Homo sapiens: one gene and its partner. The protein of the gene in region 1 purifies or fractionates together with the protein of each later gene. This does not show direct contact. Each region holds a gene or a part of one and is shown in the gene's direction. Other genes may lie near its edges.

Region 1 (8,119 bases):
GTATTACCTTGTGGGAATTAGCAATCTGGAATTTGCAATTCTCTCTCCACCCAATCCCTTGAAAAGCCATATGTGGCATTAGAGAAATTCATAACAAACTGGAAAATGTCAAAGATGTGGCCCTGGACATTTACTGAAGCGTATATGCCACAACAAAGTGTACACTTTGGGGTAGTTAAACAAATTTCTATAGCCATACATGACAGTTAAGTGATACACAGCTTTGAGAGCCATAACTCCTCTGCATTTCTTACTAACTCTAGAAATCTAACATATCCATTAATGTATTTTTCTTTTTGCTTTTACTGTGCAGATTTAAAGAACAAAATAAATAGGTAAATATATTTTCAGAATAAAAAAGAAAACATCCCGTATTACTTTTGGGGGTGATGAAAATGTTCTAAAATTAGATTATGTTAGTGGTTGCTCAACTCTGTAAATATACTAAAAGGCACTGAGTATATTTTAAGCAAGTGAGTTTTGTGGTATGTATATCTCAATAAAGCTTTTCTTAAAAATAATATTGCTAGAGTGAAAAAATAACCGAAATATTCCCACCACTTTCAGAATCCACAGCCCGAATGTCTCAGCAGAGAAGCTGGGTGTGCTGTGTATGTATGTAGCTTATGATGCTGTCCCTGGGACGTGAGTTGTTTGCTCAGATGGCATTGACAGGGGTGCCACGTGATGGGGTAAGTGGGCAGTCCGTTGCTATAAGCAAGAGGCGGGCTGGGAGTAGCTCTGCAGATCTGGTGGCAAAATGAAAGAAAGGAGTTTTCCCTGTTAGGAAAGAAATGCAGAAGCAGCTGTCCACAGACAGCCCAATGCAGAGAACAAACCTGCCTGGGAAGCAGCTGAGGCAGGGCACATGCTCCTGGAAGGAAACAGAGAGATATGTGTGCTCCTTTACTCGCTAGCCTTTCCCGTCACCCTCTCCCCAGGCTCCTGGCACCTTGGAACAGCGTGAGCTTTCCTAGGGCTCCTCTCGACTTGCTTGATGTAGAATTAATTTAATTAGTTTCAGAGGGATCCATCATGGTGGCTGTGTTGCCTAGGTTAAAAGAAACTCTGTGTGTGTGTGTGCGCGCGCGCGTGTATGCATATATATTTTGCCTTCGTGTATGCAAAAGCACCTTGAGACAATATCCTCCTTCTAACTTGGGATTGCTGGACTGTTATTGGAGTCCTAGGGCTTGACAAATTGGCAGAGACTTGGAAATTCTGAAACAGTTTAAGGAAAATGCTTACAATGATGAAGGAACCAAGAAATAAGTCTCTGGGGCTCAATTCCCTGCTCTGTAGTACATGTTCTCAAACCTTCCTTTCAAGCATTGCATGGCTACCATGGGCCATGTGCAGTGTTAGTGCTACAGAAGACGCAGATGTCAATACAACCCGGGGAACGGGGTCAGACAGATCCCCAAAGACTTCAATACACCCCACCGCAAGACAGTTACAAATAAAGTGCTGGGTCTCAGAAGCCAAGGAAAGCATGTGCAGTTGTTGGGAAGGCTATGAAAGGCTTCATGAACAAGCAGCACTGAGAGCTGTATAACATTTTTACAGGTGGGAGTGAGGTGGATTTCCTGGAGGAAGAATCAATGTGATCACAACCATGAGGGCAGGGAAAGGACAGCAAGTGAGCCCCTTAGGTTGGAGGATAAGGAATTAGCAGAAAATGGTCCTGAAAAGGTGACTATGGCAGTAAATGCCAAGCACAGGTGTCCCTATTGAATTCCGCAGGCCACGGACAAGCCTCTGGTGGGTTCCACACTGGGGCTAATTCCAAGATTGGGGTTCCACATTGGGGCTAATATCCATCCTTCTGCTAAGGATGCCTACCACCCTTGGCTGGAGGGGGACAGCCAAATTCCTGCTCTGGTTTTAACTCAGTGAGCTTCAACACATCAATGTGGAGAAGGTACTTCGTATGAGGCACTCTACAAGTGGGAATAAAGATGAAATAGTGTATGTCTTTAAAAATCCTTGCAGTTTGGGAACAAGGAAGAAGGGCAAAGAGGAGATTAGACAACGACATGTAGAACCATACATCGTATGAGTGGTAAAAGGAGCATCACAAGAGTCTTGACAAAGTGCTCAGACCTCCTTAATTGGGGTTCCTGCCAGCTTCTCAAGAATGGGAACCAGGCTTTCTTCATCTCTGCATGGTCTGGTAGCTCAGTGCCTGGCACTTGGTAGACATTCATTAAATGAATGAATGTATGCATCAGTGAATGAATGAATAAACAAACAAATGAACAATTCTCCTGTCACGCAGGATCTGCTGAAGATGGCGGCTGTAAGTTCACAGAGCACTGCCTAACTTTGGTTCATATTGTTCCTCTCTTCTCCTACCTGTATTTTGCTCACCTCAATACCAGCCCACACTGTTTTCCTGGACTGTGATTCTTTCAGTGATCACAGAGTCTGTGCTGCATAATTTAAGTGTCCCTATTCCTTGCAGCTGCTTCCTGTGTGCTAGTCATGTAAACGCCCTTCTTAAATGATTGCATCCCTCACAATACTTAGAATATATTGACTGTTGATTGGTTGGAAAATAATCCCGTACAGGCGGAGGGGGCAGAAACTGACATCATGGAGTGTCAGGCACGGTGCTGGTGCTATGCATACACTCAACAAGGGCCTGGGTAATGCAACATGGAGAAGGGAAAACTGGGGGGCAGAACAATTTTGTCGTCTGAAAGCCTTTCACAGAGAGGCCCTGAACCCATAGCTCTCCTTCTCTGAGGACAGAAAAGGAGGAAGTGTGTCTGTCCTGCAGTATGTGGGATGGATAGATGGATGCGAAATTAAGCACTGAAGTGGGTTGCTTGGAGAGGCAATGACTGCCCCCTGCCCTCACCTGAAAATCCTTAAAGACAGAAGGGATCATCCGCCCAGGAAGCTGAGGCTGCAGGATAAGCTGGCCTTTTCCTGAACAGTGACAGTTGGAGCGTTCACCCTCACTGTCCTTGTCAGAGTTACAGGCAAGAAAGGAGAATCCTTTTGGATAAAGTGTCTTAAAGGAACTGTTGATTTACCCTTTTGCTTTATGGTCTCCTGATGTAGTGAGCAAGGTTCAGGGAGATTAGCTAACTGCAGGCAGACTGATCTTCCTGTGCAGAGAAATAAGGTAGATTCTCATTATCTTCCAGCTCATTTTCCCAAGAATTATGTATTCTCCGGCCAGAAAACGACCTCCAAACCTCCAAACCTTTTCAACTACACGCAGCAAAAAGCTAATACAATGCCTTCTGCATTTGACTGTACGTCTCCTGCAGTGATTAATGCTGCCTCCCTAACTACATTGTCCGGAGCAAGTGTCAAGCCCAATTATTTCTCTAGGATCTCCTGATAGTAAATGCTCAGCAAATATACAGACGAATAACACCTAATCATACACAATAATCTTAGAGTACTTTCCCCATACATTTCCTAACTTAATCCTTACAACAACCCTGTGAAGTTATTAACTCCCATTTTCCAGTTAAGGAAACTGATGCTCAGCAAAGTTAACTGGCACATCCAGTATCATACAGCCAGTAAGAAAGAATTCTGTTCAGTACGCCTTACTGATTAAATGAACTATGTGGCCTGAAGAAAAAGTGTCAGCTCAGTCTTTCCCCATCACGCATCTTATTCCATGGAGTAACCTGCATTATATTTCAGGGTCAGGCACACTAAGTTTGCGCTTTAGTATATGGTGAATAAATGGATGGACACAGTGGCGGCTCTGTATAAGTCAGCTGAAAGCAAACAAAGGGAAGGCAGAATCTTTCATTCACACGATTTATCCGCGCCCACTGGGTGCACTACGGTCGGGCATTGGCGACCCAGGAGCGACTGACCTGCCCTCATGGGGCTTACGGTCCTTAGCAAAAAACAGATGTAAAACAACTAATATTACAGTAAATGAATCATAATTTTGTGAGATGCTCCTGAAAGTATGTAGCAGGACGCTCCGCTCTGGTCCGAATGAAGAGCCATTTGCACTCAGTGTGGAAAGGCTAGCCTTTTTCTGGGCAAAAGAAGCGGGGGATACATTTAGATAGGCAGAAGTTCCGAGCAGAAGTCAAGGCAAATTAAAAAGGCAACAGGAGGAGGGAAAATGCTTCTCACAAACAGAACTCGACCTAGGGGACCGCAACTCTCCAGTCCTGCTGCTTGGCTGCCTACCTACCTAAGAAAAGCAGGAAAGAAAAAGAGAAGACGGGGTGGGGGATGGAGGACAAATACAGAAAAAGAAAAAAGAGCGAAGGAAGTGAGAAGTGAGAGGCCAGTTTATGTAAGCGGGCAGGGCGGCGCGGCCGGCAGGAGACCGGCGCCGGCGCCGAGGGAGTTAAGCGGACGGGCCCGGTATGGAAGAGGTTAAGGGGGGCAGTCCGGAGCGGGTCCGGTAGGGGCCGCCTACTGGGCGGGGGCGGGGCCGCGCCGAGCGAGCGCTGGGATTGGCCGTCGGGCAGGCGCTACGCTAGGACGGTACCAACAGCCGGGGGCCTCGGAGGCGGGGGGGTGGGTGTGGGACTGCCGCTCTGCGCGGCGAGAGGTGGCCTGGGAATGGCCGGGCCGGGGGTGGGCCGGAGCCGCTGTGGCGGCGGCGGCGGCTGGGGGCGGTGAGCGCGGCGTGGGGCTGCCCCTCCCCGGAGGCGGCGGGGGCGGCCGGGGCCGCGCCGCACCGCACCGCGCGGGCGGCCATGGAGCGAGCCTAGGGCCCGACAGGTGAGTGGCGCGGGGGCGGGGGAGGGCGCGCGACCCCCGCCCCCGGCGCGGCGGGCGGGAAAATGCGGACCGGCACGCGGGCGGGGCACGGTACGTAGCGCGCGCCGGGCTGGGGCCGCCTGGGGGCGGGGCGCCTCCCTGAGGGGCCGGGCACCGGGTGCCCTGAGCCGTCCCCGAGTGGCTGCGGGCGGGTCCCGGGCGAGGGCCCGAGGCTTCCTGGGAGACCCGCTCGGGCCGCGTGTCCCTGTGTGCGGTCGCGGCTGAAGGGACGCGGCCTCGGCCGCCACGTCCCTGGCCCACCTGAGGCGCGGGCCCACCTGGGGCCGCCTCAGGCTGCCAGAGGTCCTTCTAGTGACCGTCTCTCGTCCCCTTGCGCGGTCCCCAGAGGCGATTGGCCCCGGTGCCTCTCTTGTGTTCCCCGGAGCGCCCGTTGAGGCAGCCCAGGGAGCGCGCCCTCGCGGGGTCTTTGCTGGGCCCGCCTCGTGGCCGGGAAGCGCGAGTGACCTGCAGGCCGGAGGCGGAAGGCGGGGCAACCGTGCCCGGGGCCCGCGGTCTCCTGGGGTCCTGCGCCGGGCGCTCGCAGAAGGGCACAACTTAACGAATGCTGTGTTAGCCCTCAGTGGGCTGCGCTTGAGATTTCATTTCCGGGTGTGACGGCCCCGCGATTAAGAGCGGACCGATACGTTTCCCTTAATGATGAATGTGAATAGTTGTCGAGCTGCGTCCTTGATTGTGGGTTCTGATAAGAGATTCATTCTAATCTGACTTCTGTTAACCTGCCAGTCTCCGGATAAGAAGAGAAGGGGTAGAAGGATGGATTGGAGGGAAAGTAGGGGTAACAGGGCTTGGTTAGTCTTAATGGAATTATTAGTCCTTTTAAAGACCATACCATCATTGGGATGGATAAGGAGTTTCTAATTTGGGAAAATGAGAGTTGCTTGCTATTGCGACTTGGGTCTAGTGCCAGATATCAGCATCTTCCCCACCCAGCCAGCTTCCCTCTGGAGGTTTGATTTCTCACTTGGAAGGGAAGTAGGAATGTGGGGTTTTTTTTAGCCTTTAGCCTTTAAACTGTAGGACTTTATAAATCTATAATCTGGTACAAATTACTATTGCCATTTATTAGCCACGCCTATGTTTTTTGCGTTGTAAATTCTTGCAAAAATTTCACTGGCGTTGATTTCTAAAAATCTGGTTAGAGATCTCAGTGTTCTTATGTATTACAAACATTCCTTGAGTTTATGCAGGATCTTTGAGCTAAGCTTAGAGCACTTCCTCAAATATGATTCGTTATCACGACTGTCTGAGAAACTGAGGTACAAATGGTAAAGATGCTAAATTATTTGCCCAGACTCATAGCCAATCTCAGGGAGATTTAAAATCAATGTATTCTATTAATAACTTTTCTAAAGTTTGCAAAGATGTTGGACTTTGGCCTCTCGAACCGTACAATGGAATCAGTCAGCAGGAGTCCCTTTCCCATTTGAAATTACTTATCAAAGGAGAATACAAAGGCACACACAAGTATAATTCAGACTCTCAGCCTCACTCATGATAAAGTGCAGTGATAAATATGGATACAGGTAAAAGATGATCAAGACATCTTGGAGTTCACAGCGTTTCTTTTCTGTGTGGTGAAAATGTGACATTGGTATGCTCTATTCGTTTCTCTAGAACTGGTAGGACAGTAGCTATGTTTTGGTGAATGAATGGAAACTAGAAAACACATACACTGCTTTTCTTTTTGGTTCTTAAGATTAGAGAAAAAACACATCACTGCTTCTATCATCTTTATTTTTATAATCTTTTATATCATGGAAGTATTTTATGTTAAATTGATAATTCCTTGACTTTTAGTTCATTCCCTTGATTTCCATTTGTAGATTCCAGCCCTTTCACACAGCCTTAAAGTTTCTGCTTCTTATCTCTTCTGAATTTTAAATTCCTAAATGAAACTTTCTGTTCCTTCAGTTTTAGGGCAGACTTCAGCTTCCCACACTTTGTGTGTCTATCATTTCATTGGTGTAAAACCCTAAAATCATTTCATTAGTGTAAAACCCTAAAGCCAGATACTTCAGCTGTTGAATTGATAACTTTTTAAAATAGCTAACCACAGAGGTTGTCTTTTGGTGATTGCCACAATCTCATAACAGAAGCAGGAGGGCGTTCTTTGTATTCTGTAAGAATACATAAAAAGACAGTTGGTCGGGCGCGGTGGCTTATGCCTGTAATCCCAGCACTTTGGGAGGCCGAGGCAGGCGGATCACGAGGTCAAGAGATTGAGACCATCCTGGCCAACATGGTGAAACCCCGTCTCTACTAAAAATACAAAAATTAGCTGTGCATGGTGGTGCACGCCTGTAGTCCCAGCTACTCAGGAGGCTGAGGCAGGAGAATCGCTTGAACCCAGGAGGCAGAGGTTGCAGTGAGCTGAGATTGCACCACTGCACTCCAGACTGCTGACAGTGAGACTCCGTCTCAAAAAACAAACAAACAAACAACAACAACAACAGAAGGAGACTGTCTTCTGAATCTGACTCTTAGTCCTTCTGGGACTAAGTGCCAGGTGGTTTTGTGGATTGGGATGGGGAACACAGTTACAATGAGGCCCTACAGTTTGTTGTAATTGTTACAGTAATCTGTGTATCTGTGTATTTTTCTCTCTGCACCTGACAGTGCCTGTATGTAGAAGGTGCACAATAAATATTCGTCAGTTGAATGAATAAATGGAAAACAGTATGAGGGAAGGGGAAATATTCTAATGTATATACTAAATTATTTAGTTCCTCTTTTTGTCAAAAGAAAAAAAAAGCGTAGAAAATGTGTTTCGGATTACTGTTCAAAATATTCTGTAGAGGTGTGTTATTTGCTTCTGTGATTATATGGTGTTCTAAACCACCTGGAGCCTGGCAGTAGCCTGTGCAGGTTCCAGTCAAGTGCAGCTTCACAACCTTGCTCCTACAGTCTGTTCTGGCTAGGCTAATTGGGCAGTTGGATTGATAGCCAGTGTTTTTGCATTAATAGAAGAACTTAGAGCTCTTGGCAATGGCCATGTCAATAGCATTGACCTGACTGCCCTTGTCCCTTATTTTGACGGTGGAAGAGGGGAGTTATCCCTTTTTAAGAGTACTTCTCCAGCAGTTCCTTCTTCTACACCTACATATATCTTCCTGTTTTCCTTCAGCTGTCTCTGTAACCCCAAGTACTAATGAATTCTTTAACATAGGCCTGGGCTGCAGAACAGAAGCTTACTTTGCTATTGAAACCAGCTTCTGACTAACTTACAATGTCAGCATGACTGCTCGAGCTGCCTAGAAGAGAAAATAATGCAAAGATCTCACTTCTGATTTGGTCTTTCTTACCAAAAACAAAAGAAGAAATGCCTAGCTTGGGATGTAAA
Region 2 (7,619 bases), on another chromosome or scaffold:
CTGGGGACAAAAAAGCCACTCAATACATGAGGCAACAAGAGTGTCCAGGATTTACCTTTAACTGTTGGAATTCCGAGTCTTGCTATACCTTTCTCTCGTGCCCCACCTTTGGAACGCTGGCTACTCATTATGGGATGCCACCCATCCTAGCCGTCGCCTGCATATATTGGGTGCTCATTATGACGTGGTCGTAAGTGCTGTCCATCCGCCATCATTCATCTTCATCCAGTGAGATGAACACGAACCCCATTTCATGGATAAAGAAACTGAGGCAGCCAGGCGCAGTGGCTCACGCCTGTAATCCCAACACTTTGGGAGGCTGAGGTGGACGGATCACCTGAGATTGGGATTTCAAGACCAGCCTGACCAACATGGAAAAACCCCATCTCTACTAAAAATACAAAATTAGCTGGGTGTGATGGCGCATGCCTGTAATCCCAGCTACTCAGGAGGCTGAGATAGGAGAATCACTTGAACCTGGAAGGTGGAGGTTGTGGTGAGCCAAGATTGCACCATTGCACCCCAGCCTGGGCGATAAGAGTGAAACTCCGTCTCAAAAGAAAAGAAACAGGCTTAGGAAAAGCGATCTGCCCAAGGTTGGGATGAATCCTCAACTGGGCCCATCTCTAATCTGGCTTCTCTCTGCTACGATGCTGCAAGAATTTTCAGGCCAAATTTCAGTCCCTGGGTAAAGGGAGGGTACAACTTTTCCATTTTTTAAGCTGTGAGAGGGTAGAGTACAAAAGGGATATTTGAAATTGTGCTCCCTGAGTATCAGACTTGTAGAAGCAGAGACCTGGCTGTTCTCATTGTATTAGAAGAAGCAGGATGAACAAAAGGTTTTGGAGAATGCTGGGAAACACGGCTGGGGTTTGAGAGACTTAGGCAGCATGACATTCAGGCCCTTTTAGGTTATTAGGACAATGAGAGTTCCGGGCTCTGTCCCTAACCCCCAGCTAGGTAAGTGGCAAAGCACTTCTGGCTGTTTTGGAGATGCTGTCAGCTGTGGGAAACTGAGGCAGAGGCCTGGAAGGGCTTTTATTTTCATTCTACCTCCCTCATTTTCCTTTCATGACCCTATGGGTGAGACCATAGGTAGTCTCCAGGTGGGTAGACAGAAAATGCCCTTTGCCGCAGGCATGACCTCAAGAGTGCCTACTTCCTCTTCCAACTTGGTATTAGCCCAACCTCTGTCAGAAGGGCAACAGAATGAAATAAGGATGATGAAATGCTTGCAAAGAGAAAGTGAAATGGAGAATATGCAGTTTTTAAGTCCCTTTGCCATTTTTAAGATGCTTTTGAATCCAGGATTCTTTTGAATTAAAGGTACAGCGATCACAGGAGTATAAGCATTGATTAAATACCTATGATGAAATAGCACAGCAAAATGGGTAGACATGGGCCTTGAAGTCAGATGGGGTTTGAGTCTCTGCCCTGGCTGTATAACTCTCGTGAGTTATGTAACTTCTCTGAGCCTCAGTTTTCTCATCTGTAAAATGGGGATAATAGCACCTCCTATGGAGGGCACAAAGCAGATGGGACCACTGTAATTATAAGCAGTACCTGATGCAGATGAAATACTACTGGCCTTTTGGGAAATGGGAGTGGCAGTAGAATGGGGAGGGAATACACAAGATTGCAAAGTGTGACCCCCACCAACTAGGATCCTACAGAACGATCTAACACTTTACATTTCAGTTGAGGACTTTTCCAGGTGTAAAATTTATGCTGATTTTTTTTTTCCATCCCAGGTTTGGTTTTCCTAAACAAATCCTTTCACAGGGACCGACGGCACTTGATAATGTGACAAAAACCAGCCTCTTCCACCCCACTGCAGTGACTTTTGCCGGAAAGTGGAGCAGTGGGCACGGCCAACCTTGTCGTTCATCAATGCCGCCCCTGGCAGTATCTGAGGATCGGTGGCAGCCATGCCTCCCCCTGCCCCAGCCGCTCCTTCCCCCCCACGCTAATCTGCATGGTGTGGGCGCCCTTGGGACCCCCGAGGACTGATTGTCTGACCTTGCTTCACACGCCCAGTAAGGACTCCCCCAAGATGTCGCTCGAGTGGCTGGTGGCCTGGAGCTGGTCGCTGGATGGCCTGAGGGACTGCATCGCCACCGGCATCCAGTCCGTGCGGGACTGCGACACCACCGCTGTCATCACTGTGGCCTGCCTCCTGGTCCTCTTCGTGTGGTACTGTTATCACGTGGGCAGGGAGCAGCCCCGGCCCTACGTCTCCGTCAACTCCCTCATGCAGGCTGCCGATGCCAACGGGCTGCAGAATGGCTACGTGTACTGCCAGTCCCCTGAGTGCGTGCGCTGCACCCACAACGAGGGCCTCAACCAGAAGCTGTACCACAACCTGCAGGAGTACGCCAAGCGCTACTCCTGGTCCGGCATGGGCCGCATCCACAAGGGCATCCGCGAGCAGGGCCGGTACCTCAACAGCCGGCCCTCCATCCAGAAGCCCGAGGTCTTCTTCCTGCCCGACCTGCCCACCACGCCCTATTTCTCCCGGGACGCACAGAAACATGATGTGGAAGTGCTGGAACGGAACTTCCAGACCATCCTGTGTGAGTTTGAGACCCTCTACAAAGCTTTCTCAAACTGCAGCCTCCCGCAAGGATGGAAAATGAACAGCACCCCCAGCGGGGAGTGGTTCACCTTTTACTTGGTCAATCAGGGGGTTTGTGTTCCCAGGAACTGTAGGAAGTGCCCACGGACGTACCGCTTGCTCGGAAGCCTTCGGACCTGTATTGGGAACAATGTTTTTGGGAACGCGTGCATCTCTGTGCTGAGCCCTGGGACTGTGATAACGGAGCACTATGGACCCACCAACATCCGCATCCGATGCCATTTAGGTATGTTGCAAGGACAGGGGTCTCCCGGCATGCACATTTGCAAGCTCAGCCCCTCTCCATCAAAACATCGCGAAAGCTCAAATGGTCAGAATTGCGCCTTTTCGCATTGTTCACTTTTAGCAAAAACTGATGAATTGCATGTAAACAATTTGACAGCAGAGATTGAGTCAAAAAGAAATCTTGTGATCAGTGCAAACCTAATTTCTGACAGCAGCTCTGTGCAAAGAACTTTCTGCAGTGACAGAAATGTTCTCCATCTTCATTGTCCAAAATGGTAGCCACTAGACACATGTGACTAATTGAGTGCTTGAAACTTGTCTCCTGTAACTGAGGAACTAAATTTTAATTTAATTTAAATAGCAGTGACACATACGGCTAGTGGCTACCGTATGGGGACAGTGTCGTTCTAGAGCCAAAGACTTGTTAAAATGATTACCGAGCTTCATAATGATGTCCAGGAGGCTGTGAAAGATACTTAAGCATCTTTGCAGTCATCAAGGATGAAATGATCCTTGGTGATAAGCTTGTTTTACTCCGATTCTGAGAAAATTGGTCGTATGCGTACTGTGTGTGCGGCTGTGGTTTTGCAAACAAAGACTGGAGTTAGACAGCCTTTGTTTGCATCTTGGCCCCACCACGAGCTGTGCTACTGTAGGCAAGTCATTTCACCTCTCTGAGCCTCAATTTCACTATTTGGGAAGTGGAGGTAAAAAGATCTTCTCCTAAAGAGTTATTCTGAGGATCCAATCAGATAATGTGTATTGTATGTATGCACACAGAGCCTAAAATAGAGCAAGTATTCAATAAAAGTAGGCTTAAAACAACTTAATCATGGAGGTATTAGTTCCCCAGAATGCCTTATTCCTGGTGAGTGGCGATAAAAAGCTCGTCTCTGGGATGGTGGCATCACCGGTTAGTATCTCAGATTAGAGTGTGCAGAGACAGCCTTGGCAGCGTCCAGCTTTACAAAGTTCACAACGCTGCTTCAGCTTCAGTAGGGAGGAAGGAAGAGCAGCAGGAGGAACCTGGTGCATGGGTTGGAGTGGGAGTTTCATAACCACGTTCTGCAGAGGAGCCTCAGGGCTGCCTGGGAAGGAGCCGGAGCTGGGGGCCCCCGAGCCCTCTTCACCCTCAGCAGCTCTGCTTCTCCTGCTGTCTGTGTGGGGGTTCTGAGTAAGATGTGGTTTGGATGGAGGATATCACTGCACTAAAAGAAAAGAAAAGAAAAGAAAAGAAAAGAAAAGAAAAGAAAAGAAAAGAAAAATATAATGAGATTTGAGCAATTGACATGGTAGGAATTTCAAGAGTAAAGGGCGGACTGGGTGGAGGCTTTGGGGGAGGTGGCCTGAATTCCTGGTCAGCAGTCAGCCGTGAGACTTTGAGCAGGTCACTGAGTCTCTCTCTGCCTCAGTTCTTCATCTGTAAAATGGGGAGATGGTACTTACTTCACAGGATTGTTGAGAGGATTCAATGAGTGGCATCTTACATGGCCCCTTGGCAGGATTCCTGGCACGTGACAGCATTTGATGAATGGGAGCTAGTAGCTATTATCAAGGACTGTGTTGGACCATGTGAAAAATGATCCATAAGACATAGACCCTGCCCCCAGGAAACAGTGGGAAAGGAACAGGCTTCGGAAGCAAACAGATCTGGACTCAGGTCCTGGCCTCGCCCCATTTGCTGAGTGACCTTGGGCAGGGCTCTGAACCTCCTTAAGCCTCCGTTTTATCTTCTCTAAAACAGAGATGACGATTCCCACTTGCTGGCTGTTTTGAGGAGTGGGAAGTAATATGTGTAAAATGCTTGGCAGGTAGAGGGCAGTGGACAGTAAGCTAATCTAAGTGATGGGATGATAATCCAGGTGATGGTCATTAGCAAAACTGCTGTGCGAGGCCCCAAGCCTCACTTGGCTGCAGACGGGGTGCCCTGGGGAGGTGGGTCTGACACTGGAGGATCCCCACACAGAAATCAGGTGCCGCCAGGGTGGAGCGAGGGAGCGGAATCATCCCCTGGGGCTTGGGGAAGCCGGGTCTAGGCTTGCTGGGGAGGCCAGTAGTGTGGGCTGAGGTTGGACAGGTCAGGTGGGAGCAAACCTCAGAGGCCCTTGATGCCAGGCTTGAGAATGGAGGCCGTGGGCAATGGGGAGTGATGCTCTTCTTTTGAAAGGTTTGCCTTTATGTATTGTTTTAAAACTTCAGAATGACATCTGGGGAAGGGCATTTGAGGACTGATGTGGTAGAATTTCAAAGAGGTGTGAGTAGGAAGTGATGGTAGCAAGGAAAATCTGGGGTTTGCTTTCTGTAGATTAACACTTGTTGTTCATCTGTATGATATGCATGCATGTGTGTGTGTGTGTGTGTGTGTGTAAAACATGCCCACGCTGGCTCACACTGTGGCCTGTGGCCTGTCATTCCTTTCTCAGCCCAGCTAGGTACTTGCCAGAAAAAGTAGGCCCTCCATGTTCCTGTAGATAGCAGGAAACCTTCTTGGAAGACGTCCCACTGTGGCGTGGCTTGTTCTCCACGGCCAAGGCGAGCTCCCTGGTTGGGTTTTCTCAGCGTTTCCTTCTTTACACTATCATGCCCACATTAATATCCACCCAGGAAGGAAACAAAGGTGTGTCGGATTTATGTGACCTTGTGTGTTGACAGAGAGGGAGTCCAGAGAATGAGGTCAGAAGCAGGATAAGCCTGGTGCGTACCTGGTGGCCACACCTCTGCTGGTTACCTGGCTGAAGGTAGAGGCACCTGCAGTTCCAGAACCGTGCTCTTGAAATGCCAATGCTTGCTTTTCTTCTGCCTTCTGCCTGAGCTGTGACTGATGGAATTGTCCCTGTGGACCACTGAAGACCCAGCCACTGCTCCTCACTAACACAGCCCATTTGTTCGAGACATATTTGCTGAGCCCTGCTGTGAGCTACTTCTAGAGGTGGCATCACCTAGTCCCGACTTCATATGGGACCACAGGACAGCTTCAGGCCCACCCCCCACTCAGCATCGTACACAATGCTGGGATATTCCAGATGCACTGCCACAAACTTCCAGAAAACCACCTCTGAAACTCACCAGGCAGATGTTACCAGGGAGGCAGATACTTCATGAAAATGCATGAATATGTTCAGCAAATTCTAGCTAAAGAAGCACAGTTAGACTCTTGTTTTTCTTTTCTGCATGTCATCAGATTTCTAGGTGGTCTAGCCGGGTGGTAACAGTAGATCAGCTCATGTTCCCCTTGCCCACCCTGAGTGCCCGGTTGCCAGCCGCCTGAAGTGGGGGCCACTGGTGGACACAGCCCTTTCTCTACCCTCCTTCCTGCCTCTTTCAGGGCTCGGTAGGGACAGAGCAGCAAAGCTTGAGCCATAGAGGAGCATATGGGACTATCTGAGGCCATGTGTGGGACCTGTCACTGTCCTCAAGAGCCACTGGAATGATCTGTTTAGGGAAGAATTGAGCTCTTCTGCCAACTAAGCTGGTTTGTGGGCAACAGGCAGGAATGGGGGCAGGAGCAGAATGAAGGGGAGGCGGAGAACAAGAAGCAGGGGGGTGTCAAGCCAGCAGGCCAGGCCATTTTTCTATCGCACCGTGGCACGTGGCGATGAATCATTTAGTGGCCCAGAGAAAGGGGAGCTTCTTTCTGAAACCCCGGGGTGGCTGTCCCTGCAGAGAACTGCCCATTCCTAAAGGCCTTCGCCACCTGAACCAGCCAGTAGGGGCACACGCCAAAGGAAAACGTAGCCTCTGAGTCCCTCCATCTGGGCGTCTTTACAGCCCTGACTCCCCCAGCTGCTGTTAACCATAGTGGGAAATCATGGCTTCTGTCAGGATGAGCAGTCTCAGCTGATTTAATGAAATGTACTATTGAGAGTTGAAACATATTAGGGTCCTCTTAGAGGGACAGAACTAATAGGATATATATATACACACAGATATATACACACATACATATATATACATATATATACACACACACATATATATACATATATATAGATACACACATACATATATATACATACATATATATACATACATATATACACATACATATATACACATACATATATACACATACATATATATACATACATATATATACACACATATATACATATATATATACACACATATATATACATATATATATACACATACATATATATATATACACATACATACATACACACACACACACACATATATATATAAAGGGGAGTTTATTAAGTATTAACCCACATGATCACAAGGTCCCACAATAGGCTGTCTGCAAACTGAGGAGCAAGGAAAGCCAGTCAGTTTCCAAAGCTGAAGAACCTGGAGTCCGATGTTTGAGGGCAGGAAGCTTCGAGCACTGGAGAAAGATACAGGCTGGGAGGCTAGGCCAGTCTCACTTTTTTATGTTTTTCTGCCTGCTTTATATTTGCTGGAAGCTGATTAGATTGTGCCTGCCAGATTAAGGGTGGATCTGCCTTCCCCAGCCCACTGACTCAGATGTTAATCTCTTTTGGCAACACCCACATAGACACACCCAGGATTAATACTTTGTATCCCTCAATCTAATCAAGTTGAAACTCAGTATTAACTATCAGACATGTTAACTACAAGAAAATCAGCAATCAGGCCAGGCACAGTGGCTCAAGCCTGTAATCCCAGCACTTTGGGAGGCCGAGTCAGGTGGATCTCTTGAGGCTAGAAGTTCGAGACCAGCCTGGCCAACATGGTGAAGCCCCATCTCTACTAAAAATACAAAAATTAGCTGGGC

The links.
Region 2: the proteins of FAM20B (region 1) and ASPHD2 purify together in Homo sapiens (co-immunoprecipitation; 3 studies listed by BioGRID and IntAct, with this or other methods). This does not show direct contact.

Annotation. Positions count from the first base shown.
Region 1 is NC_000001.11:179,021,380-179,029,498, forward strand, and holds the start of FAM20B (glycosaminoglycan xylosylkinase), read left to right. Parts: upstream 1-4,514; 5' UTR 4,515-4,719; intron 4,720-4,744; exon of another isoform or gene 4,745-4,809; intron 4,810-8,119. UniProt on the Homo sapiens protein: Responsible for the 2-O-phosphorylation of xylose in the glycosaminoglycan-protein linkage region of proteoglycans thereby regulating the amount of mature GAG chains.
Region 2 is NC_000022.11:26,431,641-26,439,259, forward strand, and holds part of ASPHD2 (aspartate beta-hydroxylase domain-containing protein 2), read left to right. Parts: intron 1-1,751; 5' UTR 1,752-1,975; coding exon 1,976-2,861; intron 2,862-7,619. UniProt on the Homo sapiens protein: May function as 2-oxoglutarate-dependent dioxygenase.